2 separate regions of the Homo sapiens genome follow, and region 2 is linked to region 1. Evidence: fine-mapped expression QTL. Tissue or cell type: whole blood. Region 1 holds a variant in brackets; the other region holds the start of a gene. Each region is shown on its reference strand, or each on the opposite one. Region 1 holds the start of TENT5C (terminal nucleotidyltransferase 5C). Region 2 holds the start of TGFB1I1 (transforming growth factor beta 1 induced transcript 1).

Region 1 (10,198 bases):
GCTCTACCTGGATCAATCATTTGATTTCTATAACAACCCATAAAAGAGATACCATTCCTCCTACTCCCCCACTTACAGATGGGAAAACTGGAGAACAAAGAGGATGTGCAAATTGTAAACTGTCCAAGGATGCACTGCTGGTGAGTAGCAGAAATGGAATTTAAGAGTCTTCCTAAAAGGTGGATAGCTTTGGTGGGGCAGGGAGCTTGAAGAAGAGCTGGTTGTGCTTAGATGGTCAGAGGAAGGAGATGACAGTAAGTAGAAAGAAAAGGAAGGAAGGTATAAAGATTTTTAAAAAATAAGATGGTAGGAAAGAAGTTTGGCTAGACCGCTAAGGCCACCTGAGTGAGGTAAGGCCAGATGGCAAATTCTGAAAGCAAGGGAGAAGCATTTAGAACTGAAGTATCTAACAACTGTCAGCATAGAAACTGCAGGCTGGAGCCACCAGAACTGAATGTGATTAAGTGTAGAAATGCTAATCGTTATGCTACTGTTTGTTTTAAAGGAACAATGGCTGGGAGATGAAGGCCTAGGATCCTAACTTCCCAGGGAGCTCCAAGATGCTTGCTACGTTGCAGAACAGTGGTGATTTTAGAGAAACCAAGTCCAGAAGAGAGAGAGAACCCAAGAGTGGAAGGTGCTGCACAGTCGCCTTGCTGAACTAGTAATAAGAGGAAAAATTAATGGCACAGGAGGGAGATTATCAGGAATGGGCTGATCCTGATCCAGAAAACTAAGGCATGCTGCTTTGCTCATGGAATAAAGGAACAATTACTGAGACTCCTCTGATGGCTGGGAGATCAGAGTGTTGATAGGCTGATGAAGCAACAGAACAGGACACTAGCTACAGTCGAGACGGCAACCTTCTCAGATCAAAGAAGCCAATAACCCAACTGGAGCTACAGAGAAATGGCTGATAAATTTGCAGGCAGTGACCAGGACTTAAAGGGCCAGCCCAGGAAGGAGAGCTGGAACAAAACTGAAAGCAGAAAGTCTGGAACGTACACAGGACCTCATGAATGCTGAACCTGAGACTGGACACCGTCACTTCCCCCACCTGCATGTAGTTTGACCCTTGAGATTCTTTCACCCATAAGAAAAGAGCCAGGCGCTTCGAATGACCATGGACCTTGGTCATTTTGCTTGGCATGTGCAGCAGCAGATAACCGGGCAGAAACGAGAAAAACCAGGGTCAACATGGATATGGCCTTCTGAAAAAAATCCTCCTCTCTTACTCCTTGAATTCCTTGGGGGATGAAGGCCAGAAGTTATCTAGGAAGGGTTTGGAGGCAGTCTAAGGAAGGCTTTTGTCTGCCAGCTCCTCCCTAGGGCCAGACCCCCCACATAGGGAGGGGGCCACATTCTGGAGACTCCTCCACAGCCCCAAACACATGAAAGTTACAGATAACAGACACTCGAGTGTTTCATGTACATGGAATAGCAGCTTAGATTATGAATGGCCTGAAGCAATAAAAACAGATAAAATAATGCTTTACTTTTTAAAAGGCCAATAAAATATATCCTATGCTCACTATTTTTCCAAGATGTTATTTTTACAGTTGCCCACTTAAATGCCCGCAACACATTCTACCTGAGTTCAAAGAAGTAACTGCCCCAGGCCACAAAGCTGTGCCCAGAGAAAACATTTCTAAGTCAGTGACGCAACAAACCCCACAGTTGGTCTTTTCTCACTCTCAGCTCCATTGCATTCAGCCAGCGTCTCATTCTATTTTCTTAAGGTTATTATCATCCTCCAGCCATTTACCAATGATGTTTACTAGAGTCAAAAAATGTGGTTAGATTCCCACATGAGCTGTGGAAAGCAGCCCTGGACTGAAACCCAGGCAGGCCACAGAACCAGGCTGTGATCTCCGCTGTTTAAGGGGCCTCCATGAATTCTCACTTCCCACTAAGAAGTGAGAAGCCAACACACAGTCTGAATGGTTATCACTGGGCTCCATCCATAGACACCCACCAACGACAACTCCAAACAGAAAGCTCTTTCCCACCTTTGAAAATAGGATGCTTGGGCAAGTGTGGGTGGAGAGATAACGCTGGAAGAACTAATGCTGTGGCCGCAAAACAGCAAACAGAATCAAAACACTGGCCTAGATATTACAGCAGGGATGCCACACAAGTTCAAGTGTTGAAAGGTATACTCTGACGTGGTTGCAAATGGAAATATTAACAAGGTCAGGACACAGACATCTTCAGATGGAAGCAGGGCATAAAAGCCTTGATTTTTTTCCAAGGTGTCAGCATTAAGTGCTACACACACAACTTGAAATGGAAATAATCCTTGTTGCTACTTGGTAACCACCTTCCCACCATCAACTGCTTCTTTCTAGATCAGAGGTGTTACTGGTCTGAATTCATTTAAAGAGCTCCCCAAAGAGAGCCTGCCTTTCTGTTTTAGAGATTGCCCAGACTGAGAAAAATGAGATGATTCCTAAGGAGGAGACTGCTTACTGTAAGAATGACTCAGCTTACACGTAATCCACAGGGTTTAAGAGCTGACAGCCTCCGGGTTTCATCAAAGGCTGCTTCCACAGGCTACTTTACCATCTAACTCTCCAGCCTACAGCTTTAAACAGTTGTCCAAAAGGAAGACCTCAGTCAGCTAAAAGTCCTGTCTAATCACTAGCAGCTTCCCTGCCCAGGCCTTATCAGGAAAGGGACAAGCAACTCTTAGTTCCTCAAATGCCACCCTTATCATACGTTAGACCATAAACACACCCCATTCACAAGTGTCTAAGTGTGAGCTGACCTCCATTTCAGAGCAGATGCTAATTACGTGCATAGTTCCATCCAGGTTTTTGTTTTGCATGGATCCTTCCCTTAGGAGTTGGCATTCAAGTTGCAGGTTCCGGGCCTCCAGGTACTGCGCATAGCAGCAGCTCATGTTTAGCGTTCATCAAGTAATTAATGTGCTGTCACCAGACAGCTCAAACACTTTGACTTGACTTGAATGTTACTTCCTCTTGCAATTTCACTCAAATTTTAATTGTTGATAAAACTTAATTGTTGATAAACTGAGTCCTGGTCCCCTGCCAGTCTCAGAAGATTTTATCAGCAGTTCCTTGAAATTCTATTGCCTTATGATTATTCTCTAAGAAACTATAAAAAAAAAAAAAAAGAATGAGCACCGGGCTAGGAATCCAACACCATGTGTTTTAGTGTCAAGTCTGACGCACAGTGTGAATGACTGTCAGTAAGTTGGCCATAACTGACTTTCCTTTCACTCTTTCAAAAATGTGCATGCCTACTATGTTTCAAGCACTGCTCCAGGAGCTTGTGATGCACTGGGAAGAAAGAGACAAAGATCCCTGGCCCTGTGGAGCTGATATCCTGCTTCCTACTCTCCTTCCATAACTTTGGGTTGTTAAATCTTGCCTCCCACACATGCAGAATCAGAACTTGAGAGTGAAACATTTTTGCTGATGGTCTAGACTTGTGCTGCCCAATACAGTAGGTACCGCTGTAAATGCTAAAACACATACTGGATATCAAGGTCTCAGTATGATAAAAGGAATGTAAACTATCTCATTTAGATTTTTTATATTGATTACATACTGAAATGATGAAATTTGATATGGTAGATTAAATACACTTATTAAAATGAATTTCACTTTTTTTTGATACAGGGTCTCACCCTATTGCCAAGGCTGCAGTGCCGTGGTTCGATGGCAGCTCACTGCAGCCTTGACTTCCTGGGCTCAAGCAATTCTCCTGCCTCAGCCTCCTGAGTAGCTGGTACCACAGGCACGTGCCACCACACCCAGCTAATTTTTTAAAAAATTGTTTTTATATAGATGGGGTCTTGCTGTGTCATACAGGCTGGTCTGGAACTCCTGGACTCAAGGGATCCTCCTGCCTCAGCCTCCCAAAGTCCTGAGGTTACAGCTGTGAGTCACTGCCCCTGGCCAAATTTCACCTACTTCTACTCTTTAATGGGACTACTAGGAAGTTAATCGTGTCTCTCATATTTTTACTGGAAAGCACTGATCTAATTTATTGTCCTTATTATAATGAAGAAGCTGAAGGCTGAAGAGGTAAAGGCTCTGCCAGGACCAGAGCCCAGGTCTCCCCACAGCTAAAGTCAGCCTCAGAAGCAGAGGAGGTAAAAAG[A/C]TGACAAACAGCCTGGGCACAGGAGATAGCAGCGGTGCTAGCTCTAGCTGAGCAGCTGTGAGCAAGCCTCTAGACACATATCAGGCACTTGATGAGTGTACGCGTCATCTCTGCTTCTGGATCAGTCCTCTTTCTGCTACTGCTGTGCTGCAGTTATTCCACAGGAATGACGATTGAAACTGCCCAAGTCCATATAGCACTGGCTAGCTGTGGAGATCCTAATGCCCATCTCTAACTACGACGAGCAGAGGGCAACGATGGACAGAGTGTGTTTGGGGATCAGGGGCAAGCAGCCAGGAAAGGTGGAGGGTTACCTCTTCTATCTTCATAAGGGCTAAACAAGTTGAGAGATGCTTACGGCAACGGAAGAGGGTGTGGGCAGTTGCAGTTTCATGGATAATTTTCTTCTCAAAATGTTTTTATAGGAGGCTAAGTATGGTAACAGTATGGGACTTTGTGCTTATTCAATCAAAGATAAAAATTTAAGAACTAGAAAAGAAGGTAGAAGGAAGAACTGTAAGAAAGTATTGGCCGGGCATGGTGGCTCACACCTGTAATCCCAGCATTTTGAGAGGCTGAGGCAGGCAGATCACGAGGTCAAGAGACCAAGACCATCATGGCCAACATGGTGAAACCCCATCTCTACTAAAAATACAAAAAATTAGCTGGGTGTGGTGGTGTGCACCTGTAGTCCCAGCTATTCAGGAGGCTGAGGTAGGAGGATCGCTTGAACCCACGAGGTGGAGGTTGCAGTGAGCAGAGATCGTGCTACTGCACTCCAGCCTGGCGACAGAGTAAGACTCCGTCTCAAAAGAACAAACAACAACAAAGTATTAATGAATCGAGGTGTGAAAAGAGCGGGTCCCCAGATGGAATAATGTCAGTCAGAAGCCTGTGGGAAGGGCCTGAAGCTGGATTCAAAGTTTGGTGAGAAAGGAGTATCATTCCTTTGTGCAGATATGAGTATCTGTTCTGTGAGGCAAAGAAGGGCAGTTAGGGAGACTCTGCCATGGGGGGTGGAGGGTGGGTCAAGAGTAAAGAGTCAGAAAGGCACGGTCTTGAAGAGGAGGTTCAGCTTCCAGAGGTGCAGGCAGTCCCTGTGCGCTTGGATGGAGTTCCAAATGCACAGACTGTAGAACTAGCCAGAGGCAGGGGAGGCGGACTCACTTACTGCCCTCATCAAGTTCCTGTCTACGGGCCCCTAAACCAGGTCAGTGATGACAGTGGGAAACAATAAAAAAGAGAAAGAATCAGCAGAACTAGCAACTGAGTGAACAGAGAGAGAGAAAAGGCTGAGTGAGCCATGTGAGGCTGGTGTCAGGGAGGGTGGGAAGGATGGCAAGTGCTTAAGGGAGTGGGTCTGGAGCTCAGCTTGAGGAGTTTCAGCTGTTGGTCAATTAGCTAGTCACTGCCCCTCAGCTCCAAACCTATACCCCTGTGGCCTCTACTTAAAAGAGGACTCAGCCATTGGCCTGCCTGCCTCGGTCCACCAAGAGAACTCCCACTTCAAGTACGCCTCCCTCTTTGCAAGCCGCCAACCGAACATGTATCCAAATGACAGAACACCTTCTGTGTGCCAGGCCAGCTCTATAAGCAGGCACTGGGGAGTCAGCAGTGAGCACAGATTCCGCTTTCCGGCGCTCATATGCCAGTGGCTGAGACTAATGAGAGAAATCGGAGTGCCTCGACTGCATGATAAAGCCAGCCCAGCTCCTCTCGCATCCAGAGCTCTTCCAAAGGCATTTCCAAACACCACTGCCTTGGCGTCCTCAGCACCTGGCACTAGCTACTGCCTAGGAAGCACTTAACTACTTACTGACTCAATCACGGTTCTCCAAGAAATAAACAACACTCCATGCAGTTTTGTGACCAAGACTCCAAGACTTTAGTCTCAAGCTCCGACACTAAAAAACATCCTACAGGGAGAGAGTTGCTTAACATCAGCAATTATTTTTTCATATTTTTTTTCTGTTGTTCCAAGAAGTTTTCAAACAGTTCTAGAACAGACTGTGGGGGCCAGCTGTACAAAATCTATTAATTCTGAACAATTCTTAAGGCTTCCTTACCTAGTTGAACTATATAAAGATGCTTCCTCTAAACTATTTGAATTCCAAATGCAAGCCTCTTTATGCGGCCTGCAATGAAAGCGTAAAAACGTTTTGAGAGATCTTATGGCCTGAAAACATCACAAGAAATCAGCAGTACTAATGTACCCAAGCAGCTTTAAACACATGAACATTTCTTTAAACACAGAGGTGTCTGCTTCATTGTAATACAATTTATGCCATTTTAATGTACTATAGTCAAAACACCAAGATGGCAGGAAGCATTTTCCTACAGTGCCTTGTTTACCTCAATGACAACACAAAAAGCAACAGACCTTATCTAACCCAAGTAATGTTTTATTCCAAGTAACCTCACATTCCACATTACTCCTTAACTCCTAAACACACACACATGCACACAAAATAGCAGATACACCCAGAGACAGGTGTGAAACCAAGAAACCCCAAAACATAAGTTTAGCTTAACTCATGAAACTAGTTTTGGGCTTCCACGACTTCTCTCAGTAATGCAAAAAAAAAAAAAAAAGGTTCAACTCATCCACTGAGAGCCTTTGGGTTTCCATTTCTTTAGTAGGTAACTCCATGAACACAACATTGATCAGAGACAAAAGATGAAGACAAGGTCCTATGTACTTGAGCAGTAAAAACAACAAAAAAAGTTTTTTAAATGAAGTTTTTAAATTTTCTATCAAATGTGTCTGGTTAATGGTACTGTGAAAACAAGAGCACTACAGCCCACTTTTAAGTTATTTTTACTGCTGCACTGTTCCTTGGACTTTCAGAAATATGAGGAATTCTGTTCTCTGACCGGCAGCGCAAGATGTGCATGATCTGCCCTGGCCTTGAACACGGGGGAATGTGGGCTGAATGTGTGCACTATGGGGAGATACAGCTGAGGGGGGACGGGCCTCTGGAACTCGGGAGATTTCAGTGGCTACTTGTGCTCACGGTACAAGAGAAGAAACCAGGTAGAGATAGCCACAGGTGCACAACTAAGTCATGCTCACTCTGACAAGCAGGCTAAGAGCCAAATCCTTTCCTTCAGAATTACATGAATTTAATCCCTGGATACAAGGTAGGTATTGTGGAAAAAACAGCGTAAGAAATATGGCTGTTAATTCTATGTGCTCACTGAAGCTGCTTATGAAATTAGGGATCTTTGTTTTGGTAACAATTTAGAGGCCTCCTGGCAGAGTTTTTTTTTTTTTTTAAACTTTGTTATGGGAGCCCCCTACCCCCGCATAGCTACCTGAACAATTATATACAATATACCAAAATCTTCCTAAAAACTCTTTATTGAGAATATATGTACTCTAAAGCTATGGGTATACCTTAAGAGAAAAAGTTCATTATCTGAAATAAACTAAGCTTGACTCCAGAGATCATTTTCCATCTTCACAAACAAGAATGTCAAAGGACAGAACCCCTGCAGCCCAGCTCAGAGGTTTCCCTAAAAGCCCAGAGAAAAGTCAGCATTCTTTACTCCCCATCCCCCTCCCCCTTTTCCACTGCAGGGCCTAACGTGGCTGGTCTCACACCCTCAATAATACCCTTGGGGATTTAAGACAGTAAAATTCTGGGTAAGCTCTCCTACCACTCTTGCGGCTGCCCAACTTACTTCCTGGGCTCATTTCCTTGCCAATTTACTCACGTTGAAAGGTTGCTGTCGCCAACAACGGTCACCCTCTTTCCTGCACGCAGAGGGCAGCTGAGCCAGCCAGAAGTGTACTTTGGGAGGATCTAATCACCCTAACTTTATTTCCTGGGCTGGTTCAGTCTCCTAACCCACCTACAAAGTAACCTGAAGACCAAGTTGTCACAATACAAATAATTATGCACATAGTATTTATAAAAGCTTTCTTACTATAAGTGCATTTTAAGCACTTCATTTGTATGCACTTTATATCTCCGTAAGAAAGCAAAAATGTTAAAAAGGAAGCAGGCCCCTACTTAATTAAGCCAGGGAACTGGTTAGAGCCCTACAAAAGCCTACCTATGGACAAAAAAGGGCGAAGGGGAAGGGAGCTGACACTATCCCTCCCGCAGGGTCCAGCCCTAATAGTGGGTTCTCCAGAAGCTCGCCAGGCATTCATTTCTCCAGGGGAGCGCCCTTACTTGGAGGTAGCGCTGCTTGGTTTTCTCGCCCGCCAGCGTTGAGTTCAGGTGTGCAGGCTACCAACCTGTATTCTTCAGGTAAGTCACCCTCCTCTGACTCGCCTCCCACCCTGCTCCCTCCTGCCTCGCGACCAGTGCGAAGGGAGTCCCCGAACTGCGACACCTCCCGGGGCAGCCGCACCGGTATCCGTCCGAGTCGACCCACTTGCCGTGGCTTTTCACCTACGCAGTAAAGCAAGTTTCATTTTCAAAAGGAGAGGAAGCAGGTTTCACAGACACCGCATTCCCAAGAAGTTTCTGAGAGACGCGCAGCGCACAAGTCACTGGCTTGGATCCCTTTGCTGCTCATGGTGTCCACAGTCTGATGTGAGCGCATTAAATTTAAGGATCTCCGCCCTTCTCCTTAAAACTCAGGACTTGGCAATGAGCCTAGGAAGCGCCCCTCCCCTCCCCAACCAGATCCAAGCCCCGGACCGCTGCGTCTCCAGCTGCGCCTAGTGAAACCGCCGAATTCGAATTCACACTCGGCGGGCCGGCGAAGGTGTGCGCGCCCGCGGGAGCGCCGGGGCGAGCCCGAGGGACTGCAAGCCAGGAAGGGAGGCATGGGTGGCGGGGGGCGCCGTCTGATCCAGGTAGGAGCGGAGGCGCCGATCACACACTCTTCAGACGCCCTGCCCGCGCCTGGCCAGCGCGCAGCCTGCAGGACGCGCGGAGCAGGAACTCGCTGGAGTTTGCCAAGCCCCAGGTCTCTGGAAAGTTGTAGCTCCCTTTCGGAGCGTCTCTTCTGGCCCTTTGGGACGGGTGTGTCAGGGGCGGGGGTCCTCGAGGGAGCAGGAGGGGAAAGGAGCACCGGGTCTCGGCACCTGTCCGCAGCTCCCCTCGGGTCCGCCTGCCCCCTACCAGGCTGGGCAAAGACCTGAGCACCACTTAGTGGGGGCGGACCCCCACTAAGTGAGCTCGCGGCTCCCTGGGGCTGCTGCCGCATCGCCGCACCTTTAGAGGAGGGGGGTCGCGGACTCACCTGGGCAATAGAAGAGGAGGCGACAGAGGCAGGTCCTTGGCGTGGGCAGGCCCCAGCAGGAGCGGCGCGACCTCTACAGCCCCTAGGCAGCGGCACCGAGTGAGCCGTCCCGCCGCCGCCCCCTCCGTTCTTATACGGCGGGACCACGCCCCCGTCCCCGCCCCTGAGCCGCCCTCCCGGGGGAGCCAGGGGCGGGGCGTGGCGGAGCCAGTCCCCTCGGGACCCTTCCGCCCGGCCCTGACGGCAGGGGCGGGGCGAGGGCTGCCCTCTGATTGGCTCTTCGGGTGAATGGTTGCCAAGAGACGAGTAAATCCTCAGCGGCGGGAAGGGGCGGGGTGCTCAGGGAGGCAGCACTGCGCAAGCGCAATAGAGGGGGCTGCGTCGACACCCACTTAACTTCGGAGTTAGTGGGACACCTTTCTTTTTGCTTAGTACGCTTTTCTGCTATTCCTGCCGCATAACTCTCTCTTCCCCAGGCTTTTCCCATCTCCATCCTATTCTCTCGCAGGCAGGTTTTTCTTCCGCCTCTCTGGGGATTTTCGCGTTGGTTCTCCCTGCCCCCAGGAGTGAGGCGGGTAACGCCCACGCCTACCTCCGGTGTGTGTTTTTGAAGTCGGAAAAAACTTAATGGTTTCTGGGCCCTGGGCACCTTTCTGATTCCCCAAGCAAACTGGCTGGAGGCGAAGGCGTGGTCTTCGGGGAGAGAGCGCCGGCGGCTCTCTGGCCCCGGGGACCACCTGTGTGCAGTTAGTGGGACGAAGGGCCTCGGGGAGTCCATCGCCAATGTCGGCAGCCGCAGCCGCTTCGGCCCCATTCGGAATGCCACAGCACTTGGTCCAGTGTGTTATATAACATGCAGGCAGGGCTT
Region 2 (10,198 bases), not on the chromosome of region 1:
GGGCACAGTGGCTCACACCTGCAATCCCAGTACTTTGGGAGGCCAAGGCGGGAGGATCGCTCAAGACCAGGAGTTCGAGGTTGCAGTGAGCTATGGCACCACTGTACTCCAGCCTGGGCGACAAAGTGAGACCTCATCTCTTAGGACAAAACAAAACAAAACAAAATATAGAACTGAAGAAAGAGTAATGAGGGCGGGAATATTCGGTGGGGCCCCAGTTGGAGCTCTTGTCCTGGCTCTGCCACTATCTGTACAGTCCTGCGCGAGTCGCCACACTTTCCAGCCTCAGGCTCATCTGATACTTGAAGTAGGAAGTGCAGGAGTGGCTACCTGCAAGGGCTGAGGCTGCAGGTCCCGCTGCGGCCACAGGGCAGTGACCTAGAGACGGCCGGGGACAGAGCCAGCGCGGGGGTGGGGAGTCAGGGCCAAGCTCCTGCGCGCATTCAGAGACAGCACCAGGGAGAGGTGGAATGCGTGTGTTTATGTAGGTAGAAAAAGTGCACAGAACAGTGAGGGTGCAGGGAGCAAGGACGTCCTGGCCTGGCCTCCGATTCGCTGGAATTGCAAGGACCCTCCCCCAGTAAGGGGGCTCCCTCAAGGGTGGGAATAGAGTGGAGGCCCGCACGGGAGTTCTTGTCTGTGTGCAATCCACTTTGTGGGCGTGTGGGTTTAGGTCTGGCTGGGCCGTTTCTGAACTTGACCCCTGAGGACTCATAGTACCTTAGGGGCGGGGCTCTCCAGTGGGTGGGGCCTCCCGCTCTGAGAGCAAGGCCTCGGGGTCTGGAGGACCCGGCTTTTCCGGGAGGGCGCGGCCTCCGGGGGAGAGGGCGAGCCGAGCGGGCTGTCAGCCGAAGAGCTTCAGGAAGCAGGGCTGGCAGTAGGGCTTGCCGGCGCGCTCCTGGAAGGACCCCTTGGTGAGCGGGCGCAGGCAGAAGGTGCATGTGAAGTGGTCCGGGTGGAAGCGGCGACCCAGGGCCGACACGCAGCGGCCGGTCACAGGGAGGCCACACGTGGCGCACAGCGAGCCGCGTCGTGCGTGGAAGTGGTTCTCGCACAACGGGCGGCCCTCGTGCTCGAAAAAGCTGCCTCCCGAGAAGGGCGCGAAGCATTCCTGGGGAAGGGAAGCCGCGAAAGAGGACAGACAGGTCAGCGGCCACTGCCAGACAACGCGCGTTACTAGCGGATAACGCCCTGGGACCCCGCAGCCCGCCCTAGACGCGAAGAATCCCGTCCGGTGGGACCCTGCCCGGAAAACTCGCCCCACCCGAGGTTCCTAGCAGCACCTCCCGTGACCCGCCCCCCCGAGGGCCCGCCCCCTGCCCTGCACCCTTGACCCGCCCCTCCAAGGCCCCGCCCCACAGCCCTGTACCCTTGACCCGCCCCTCCAACGCCCCGCCCCGCAGCTCGCACCCTGCAGACGAAACAGTCCGGGTGCCAGAGCGCGCTGAGCGCCGAGATGTAGTTATCCAGGATGGGGCCCTGGCAGCCCTGGCAGCGCGGGGCGAACAGCTGCAGGAAGTCCCGGCGGCAGTAGGGGCGGCCCTCGCGCTCGTGGAAACCTAGGAGAGGGAACCGAGTGGGCTGAAAGCAAAGGGTGCGGGCGGGACGGGGGACCCACAAGACCTGAGATCTGGGGCCGAAGGAGGGGCAGTCCGAGGGAGCCTTGGGGAAGGAGGAGCCGGGTCTATGGCGGGACAGAGCGGGGAGGGCTCGGGTCCGGAGTCTGTGTAGGAGAGGGCAGGGCCAGAAGAGAGCAGAAGGAAAACCATGGCCCTGAGGACTCCGGAGGTCGGAGGGGCTGGGGCGAGACGTCGAGGGGACCCGCAGCTTTTAAGATGGGAGTCGAGTTCACTCTCACCCTCATCTCCGAAGGGCTCCCCGCAACTGACGCAGCAGAAATGCTCTGGGTGCCAGTGAGTGCCCAAGGCGGTCACCATCTTCTGCAGGGAGGGAGAGGGCACTCAGCGCGGCCTCCGTGCCTTCGCGCCTTCCTCTCCCGCGCGGAACCCGGGTGACTGGACTAAGGCATGCGTGGGGGGAGGGGGAGAAGATCTAACTAGGAACGTGGGGGTCAGAAAGGAAGAGTGGAGTCCAAGGGGCCGTGGACATTGCCAAGGGGAAGGGGTAGGGGTGGAGTGGGGTATCGCGGGTGGGGCGGGACCCATGCGGTGGAGGCCCGTCCCACAGCTCTCCTGGTGAGATAGGGCGGGCTCGGTGCGGCCGGGCGGGGCTCACGTGTCGGATGGGCTGGTTGCAGAAGCCACATCTTGGCGAGAAGCGCTCAAAGTAGCACTCGGGGCAGAAGGGGGCTCCATCCTTCTCGAAGAAGCTGCTGCCTCCCAGGGCGGTGGAACAGCCTCCGCAAACGAAGTGCTCGGGGTGCCAGGCGCGGCCCAGAGCCGTCACCACCTGCGAGTGGGAGGTGAGGCGGGTCAGAGCGGCTCTGACAACCACATGCCCAGTGAGGCAAGATTTACGCGGCGTTTTTCGAGTCCTCTCTGAGCGATCAGAATAAAGAATCCAGTGTTCGAGATCACGCAGCCTGTAAGCGATGGAGATCTAGCTCCCGTGTTCCGTCTTCCAGCTGCGCTCCAGGATTGACCTATACATGAGGCACAGCAGGCACAGCGCCTGGAGCCCACAATACATTTAGGGGCCCATAAAAACGTTTTAATTTTTTTAAAATCAAAATACGATCAGGCTGGGTGGCTCGTGCCTCTAATCCTAGCATTTGGGAGGCTGAGGTGGGAGGATTACTTGAGTCCAGGAGTTTGAGACCAGCCTGGGCAACATGGCGAAGCCCCATCTCTACAATAAATAAATAAAATTAGCTGGGCGAGGTGGCGGGCGCCTTTAGTCCCAGCTACTCGGGAGGCTGAGCTGGGAGGATCACTTGAGCCCAGAAGGTCGAGGCTGCAGTGAGCCACAATCGCACCACTGCACTCCAGCTTGGGTCACAAGAGTGAGAATTTGCCTCAAAATAAATAAGAGGGAGGAAGTGAAAAATCCGTTTTTAAAAATTCAGAATAAAAAAATGAACTAGAAGAAAATGCTGTAATACACAATAATAACATACCCATCTTTACACCAACACAGACATAAAAATCTATTTATTTTAATGGACGAAGGGACTCATGAAGATGAAAGTGCCTATGATCCACAAAAGTCACAATGCCACCCTCCTTTGCTGAGATGGGCAATTCTGGGCTGGGAGTCAGGTACTTGATCTAGCAGGGGGCACTAGGTTAACCCCTAGGCACAGCTGTTGTCAATCACATCTGCTCAGTCAATAAAACAAGGACCAGTGAACCCAGTCCAGACTCTGACGGAGGAAGAGAGAGCCTTTGTAGATGCCTGAGAGATATTGGGTGGAGCCACAGAGTGTTTTGTGAAGATCAGATGAGATGAGGGTTTGTAAAGGAGCTGGCACAGTGCCTGGCACACAGTAGGACCACAATAAATGGTAACATGGTTGGAATTTTCACCCTACCACTAACCTGCTGTGTGGTTCAGAGCTTCAGTTTCCTCATCCATAAAACATAAGTAATAATGATACCCACTTCCCAGATTAACTTACTAAAAGGGAACAGCATAAAGCCCAGCTCTCACTAAAGATGGGTCTGTGACAGGTCTCTGCCTCCCTTCTCACAAGGCTCCACTTACTTGCCCAGCAATAGGTTTATTGCAGGAGCCACAGAGGCCTTTGGCCTGGGTGGGAACACCCCGGCGGCTGAGGTCGGACTGCAGCAGCCCCAGCATGGTGTCTAGGCTGCCCTTGCCAGTCGGCTCTGGTGGGGATGGGGAGCCCTCATTTGTGGAGCTCACCACCGGTGGCTGAGTTGGCCCAGAGGCTGGAAGCTGCAGCGGGGAGGACATGAGAATTGAGTCAGCAAAGCAGCAGATGTGGAATTGTCTAGAAGGGGTTGGGGAGCCACAAATGGACACTGGCCCACTGCCCAACTCACATGGTTTTGAACGCGGAAGTCAGAGAGTGAGGCCATCAGTCTATCCAGCTCCAGAGTGGCTGAGGTGGCAGAAGCCTTTGGGAGGCCAGGAGACGGGCTGGAAGGGCTGTGAAGAACATGCTTGTGTCATCTCAGAGCCTCCCAGAGCAACGCTCCCTCTAGTGACTCAGATATCCAGGACTCATCTCTCAGCCCTGACAACGACGCCAAACTCACAGGCTGGGTCTTTTCTTATCTTCAGACTGGTCCTCCTTCTGCTCTCCTGAAGCCACCTTGCTAGATGGGAACTGAGACATGATTTCATCTGGAGAGAGGAGAGGAGGACGCTACATATAGGGCCATGCTCAACGCACCCTCACACTTGAGGCTTTAGGTCCCTTTAACTGCTACTCTGGGAAGTGTATTCCTCTTAGTCTCTGCCCCACCCTTCCCTCCCCTGCCCCTATCGCATCAAGGCCTCTCTCAGTCACCCTGGTACCTGTGATGTTGAACTGAGTGGCATTAAGTTCCTGAAGCAACCGATCTAGCTCACAGAGCCCGGTACCCAAGACACCGCTGGAAGAGGAGAATGGAGGGGCCGCCGGGGCTGCAGGCTTTGGGGACCGAGGCTTGCATACCGTGCTGGGAAGCAGAGTGGGAGCCTGGGTTCAGGGGTGGGGAATCCAAGCCTCCTCACCTGAGACTCAGTTGGCCCCCATGCCCTGGTTTCCAGGCCCCTCACCTGTACAGGTGGTCCTTGTCCCCCGAGGCTCCTGAAGACTCCCCAGACCCTGTCTACAGAGCGGAGACGCACAGGTGGGATGACAGGCCTGCACTCTGCCCCACTGAGGCTGAGATCCCCATAGACCAGGCCGAGCCTGGCCCTAGTGGCTGCCCCAGTCCCCAACATCCGATCTCACCTGTGGCTGGTGGCCATAGGATGGGGGAGGGGTGAGAGGCTCCGCAGGGCGCTCTTTGGGAGCCCCTGACCTTGGCATGTGCGAGGTGGTAGTCTCCAGGTCAGAGAGCAGGGCATCTGCAGGAAGAGGCCATCAGGGAGAGAGACAAGGGTCACGGTTAGATCAGAAGATAAGGTTCCCAGTGGGCAGTACTGGAGAAGGACAGAAGCCAGTATTAAGAGAAGAGGTCACAGGGCCAGAGCCAGGCAGAGCACTGCTCGAAGGGTAGCAAGGAATATTTATGACCAGAATATCCCAGTTGCTCACGCTTGGAGCCAAGCACAAACCCAGCCTCCTGATTATTTTATTCTCCCCATCTTCTCTGATGCAGTCAAAATGGGCTCTTCACCCAAGCCAAATTTGGCTCCCCTCCAAATTGCTCCATTGGCCCAGTGCCTGGCCCTCAGCTTTCTGATTGGACGCTCTCTCTTCCATGCTGGTTAACTCCTCCCTCTACCTACACAGGCCCCGCCCAGCCTGGCCACTCCCAGGCCCCTGAGTCCCGCCCTGGGCTCCTCACTGGCGCTTCGCTGGGACCTGCCTTCTGATTGGCTGTTTATCTGCGGTACAGCGTCAGTTACCCCTACCGAGCAGCGCCCTCTACCGCCAGGGGCCGGAAGCCCCTCTCTCCCGTGGAGCGCACAGCCTTCCAGCCCCAGGCTTCGCAGGGAGGACGAGATACCTGGGTCCCCCTTCCGGACAAGACACCTCTCTCCATCCCTGCATCCCCAGATCCGGGTCTTTTGAGCCCTTTCACTTCCAGAACCCAGAAGTCCTGCCCTCAGTCTTCGTCTCTGAGCACCCGCGTGAAACCCTGAAGCCTTCGCGGGCGCCTAGGCACTCCTGAGTTACTATTCTCTTCCTTGCCTCAAGGACCTGACCCTCACTGTGCTCAGGAGCCCTTAACTCCTCCTCTCCCAAAACTCTGGTGCAGGCAGGCCCGCTTTTTTTCTCCAAAACTTGATGCCAGACTTTCCCGTGCCCTCTACTTTCCCGGTCCCCGGGCCGAGGCCCCTTTAACCCCTCCCTCCCCAGAGCCCCGCGCCCGGGCGCCCGCGGGCGCCGCACCTCCCGTTCCATCTGCCGCAGCCTGGGATGGAGGAGCACAGCGAGGGAAGAAGGGAGGGAGCGGCCGGCCCAGGAAAGGCAGGAAGGGAGAGGCAGGAAGGGGGACGTGGAGTTGGAAAGGAGGCGCGGGCAGAGGCGAAAAGCAGAAGTAAGAAGACAGGGATGGGGAGATGCGGGAGAGCGACGGCGGGGAGGCAGCTCTGGGCAGCGGTGAGGGGCCACGGACCCGGGGATCCGGCCCCACTCACCCAGGTCCTCCATGGCGGGGCGCGGGCCGGTGGCGCGGGGCGAACAGGGCGGGGGCCGTGTCCGGTGGGGGCGGGGGGCGGGGGACGTCCGGGAGCTGGAAGCCCGGCCGTGACCATGTAAGGAAGCCGGGACCCGCTGAGATGGGGATGGGGGGGCGATGAACGGGGGAACCCGAGGTGGGGGCGTGGAAAGGAGGGAGCGCCCCGGCCCACCCGAGCCCAGCCCGCCGGCCTGCCGCGGAGGCGGCCACACCCCAGCCTTGGCCTCAGCTGCAGGGAGCCCCAGGAGGCCAGAGCCAGAGAGAAGTGGCTTCTCCAGACCAAGCCCCAGAGCCGCTCCCTAGGGAGACTTACAGACACGGACTGAGGCCCCCAAACAGACACCGCTCAAAGCTAGCGCCTGAGTCCTAGACAAGAGCCTCCCTCCCACCCATGCCATTCCTGGGAGACTTGTCCCAGACGGAATTTTTGGATTGGTAGCAGGAGTGATATTCTAAGGCTCAATTAGACCTCAGGTTCGGAGACCCTCCCATCGGAGACCCTGACAGATAAATAGAGGCCCCAAGAGGCATACATACCAGACACAAAGAAATCTGAGGGACGGGGACAGACACAGTGAACCCACCCACAGACTCTACACTAGGACCTTCCCTCCAAGACTTGGTCATGGACACACGTAAACTCGAACCCGGGCGCAAGCCCCTTGCAAATTCGGGGAAAACACTCCCAGGCAACCAACCCCCAGCCAGCCTGCAAGACAAAGCCCTTCCTCAGCACTGAGGTGGCCCAGGCCTGCTCTGAAACAGCCCTTTCCCAAGTTACTGATGAACTCAGAGCAGAAAGCAAGACACAGTCTCCAGCCACAAAGTGGCAAGGCCTTCCCTGGACTGAGACCCTGAGAAACGAGGTGGAAACGAGAGGCCATAGAGGTAGTTATGGACAGACAACTGTGCTGCAGCCACTCTTCTGGACAGATCTGAGCACTGGAATGTGAGTATCAACCCAGCAGCAAATCGGAACAACCTGGGGAGCTTTTTAAAAATGCGAGACAGGCATGGTGGCTCACACCTATAATCCTAGCACTTTGGGAGGTCAAGGCGGGCAGGTCACTTGAGGTCAGGAGTTCGAGACCAGCCTGGCCAACATGACAAAACCCCATCTCTACTAAAAACACAAAATTAGCTGTGCGTGGTGGTGGGAGCCTGTAATTCCAGCTACTTGGGAGGCTGAGACAGGAGAATTGCTTGAAACCTGGAGGCAGAGGCTGCAGTGAGCTGAGATTGTGCCACTGAACTCCTGAGCAACAGAGGAGACCCTGTGTCAAGAATAAAAAAGAAAAAGAAGAAAAAATGGGCAAACGACCTGAATAGACAGTTCAAAGAAGTTATATAAATAGCCAATGATTACATGAAAAGATCCTCAACATCATTAGTCCCCAGAGAAATGCAAATCAAAACTACAATGAGATGCCACATCATACCTATTAGGATGGCAATAACAAAAAAGACAGGTAATTAGGCAAGGAGCAGTGGCTCACACCTGTAATCCTAACACTTTGGAAGGCCGAGGTGGGTGGATCCCCTGAGGTCAGGAGTTCGAGACCAGCCTGGCTAACATGGTGAAAACAGTCTCTACTAAAAACACACAAAAAAATTAGCCAGACATGGTGGTGGGCACCTGTAGTCCCAGCTACTTGGGAGGCTGAGGCGGAAGAATCCCTTGAACCTGGCAGGTGGAGGCTGCAGTGAGCTGAGATCGTGCCACTGCACTCCAGCCTGAGCAACAGAGCGAGACTCCATCTCAAATAATAATGATAATATTTTAAAGGCCAGGCTCAGTGGTTCACGCCTGTAATCCCAACACTCTGGGAGGCCGAGGCGGGCGGATCACCTGAGGTCTGGAGTTGGAGACCAGCCTGGTTAACTTGGCAAAACCCCGTCTCTACTAAAAATACAAAAATTAGCTGGGTGTGGTGGCAGGCACCTGTAATCCCAGCTACTCGGGAGGCTGAGGCAGGAGAATCACTTGAACTCGGGAGGCAGAGGTTGCAGTGAGCAGAGATTGTGCCACTGCACTCCAGCCTGGTGACAGAGTGAGATTCCGACTCAAAAAAAAAAAAAAAAAAAGCTGAAAAGAAAGAGGTAATTAGCAAGTTTTTGTGAGGATATGGAGAGATTGGAACCCTCACACATGGCTGGTTGGAATGTAAAATCGTTCACTAACTTTGGAAAATGGTCTGGCAGTTCCTCACATGTTTAAACATAGAGTTATATGATCCAGCAATTTCCCTTCTAGATATGTAACCAAGAGAAATAAAAGCATATTCCACAAAAAAACTTGTACATGAGTATTCATAGCAGCATTATTCATAATAGCCCGAGTGGAAACAACCCAAATGTCCGTCAACTGATGATTGAAGAAATGAAAGTGGCATATCCATGTCTTAGTCTGTTTTGTGCTGCATCGTAGAATGCCTAAGGCTGGATAATTTATAAAGAATAGAAATATCTTTCTTTCAGTTCTAGAGGTTGGGAAGTCGAAGGTCAAGGGCCCTGCATCTGGTGAGGGCCTTCTTTCTGCCTCATCCCACAGCAGAAAGCAGAAGGGCAAGACAGTGCAAGAGAGGGGGTGGGGTGGGGGCAGAACCCATCCATTTATCTATCAGCTGTCCACTCCCTTGATAACTAACCTACTCATGCAATAATGCCATTAATCCATTCATGAGGGAAGAGCCCACATAACCTAATCACTTCTTAAAGTTCCCACCTCTCAACAGTTGAATTGGGGGTTAAGTTTCCAACACATGAACTCTGGGGTACATGTTCAAACCACAGCAATCCATAAAGTGAAACTGTATTATTCCTAATAAAAAGAAATGAGATGCTACAGTGTGGATGAACCTTGATAACATTAAGCTATATGAAAGAGGCCAGATATGAAAGATCACACATTGTATGATTCCATTTATATGACATGTCCAGAATAGGTCATCTGTAGAGATACGATGTAGATTAGTGATTGCCTAGGGTTGGGGGAAAGGGAGTGTTATGGACTGAATGTTTGTGTCTCCCCCACATTTATACATCACAGTTCAACCCTCAGTGTGACTATATTTGAAGATAGGGCCTGACTGGGCGCGGTGGCTCACGCCTGTAATCCCAGCACTTTGGGAGGCCAAGGCAGACAGATCACCTGAGGTCAGGAGTTCGAGACCAGGCTGGCCAACATGGTGAAACCCCATTTCTACTAAAAATACAAAAAAAGTTAGCCGGGCATGGTGGCACCTGTAATCCCAGCTACTTGGGAGGCTGAGGCATGAGAATTGCTTGAACCAGAGAGGCGGAGGCTGCAATGAGTCAATATTGTACCACCACACTCCAGCCTGGGTGACAGAACAAGATTCCAAAAAATAAAATAAAATAAAATAAAATACCGATGCCCAGTCCAATGTGAGCAAAAAGACCCCAGGCATCAATAGTTTTTCAAAGCTCACTGCTTGGTTCTAATGCATAGCCTGAAAACCAGAGACCTGGACCAACACTCACAGAGGCTCAGAGACAGCAAGTGCCAACCTCAGCTGCCCAGAAGCAAACCTTGGCAGGCCCAGTGCAGCTCTCCCCAAAATCAGGCTGCCACTGAGGAGTCAAAAATCTGCAAGCCAATTATTAAACAGTAAAAGAGCAACAGATGTTGGCATGAATGTGGAGAAAGAGGAATACTTATACACTGTTGGTGGGAATGTAAATTAGCTCAACCTCTCTGGAAAACAGCATAGAGATTTCTCAAAGACCTACAACTAGAACTATCATTTGACTCAGAAATCCCACTAACGAGCATCTACCCACAGGAAAAGAAATCATGTAAAAGACAGCTGGACTCATTGTGTTTATTGCAGTACTATTCACAATAGCAAAGTCATGGACCCAACCTAAGTATCCATCAATGGGTGACTGAATAAAGAAAATGTTGGCTGGCACAG

What was found.
Region 2: it holds the start of TGFB1I1, and the variant in region 1 is fine-mapped to the expression of TGFB1I1 in whole blood (TOPMed, PIP 0.94).

What each region holds. Positions count from the first base shown.
Region 1 is chr1:117,605,286-117,615,483 of GRCh38, reverse strand. TENT5C (terminal nucleotidyltransferase 5C) reads right to left here and starts at 9,436. Exons shown (of 2, transcript NM_017709.4): 1 at 9,331-9,436. TENT5C-DT (TENT5C divergent transcript) reads left to right here and starts at 9,714. Exons shown (of 3, transcript NR_121626.1): 1 at 9,714-9,838. RefSeq lists a silencer at 9,371-9,710 and enhancers at 9,621-10,121, 10,122-10,198. The variant A/C (reference allele first, on the strand shown) is at 4,129.
Region 2 is chr16:31,468,223-31,478,420 of GRCh38, reverse strand. TGFB1I1 (transforming growth factor beta 1 induced transcript 1) reads right to left here and starts at 6,269. Exons shown (of 11, transcript NM_001042454.3): 1 at 6,220-6,269; 2 at 4,865-4,980; 3 at 4,687-4,739; 4 at 4,444-4,586; 5 at 4,182-4,269; 6 at 3,966-4,071; 7 at 3,664-3,858; 8 at 2,236-2,409; 9 at 1,859-1,940; 10 at 1,411-1,559; 11 at 463-1,111. The coding sequence starts at 6,232. The coding sequence ends at 845. RefSeq lists a silencer at 1,295-1,384 and enhancers at 678-1,410, 1,411-2,142, 2,143-2,875, 5,390-5,930.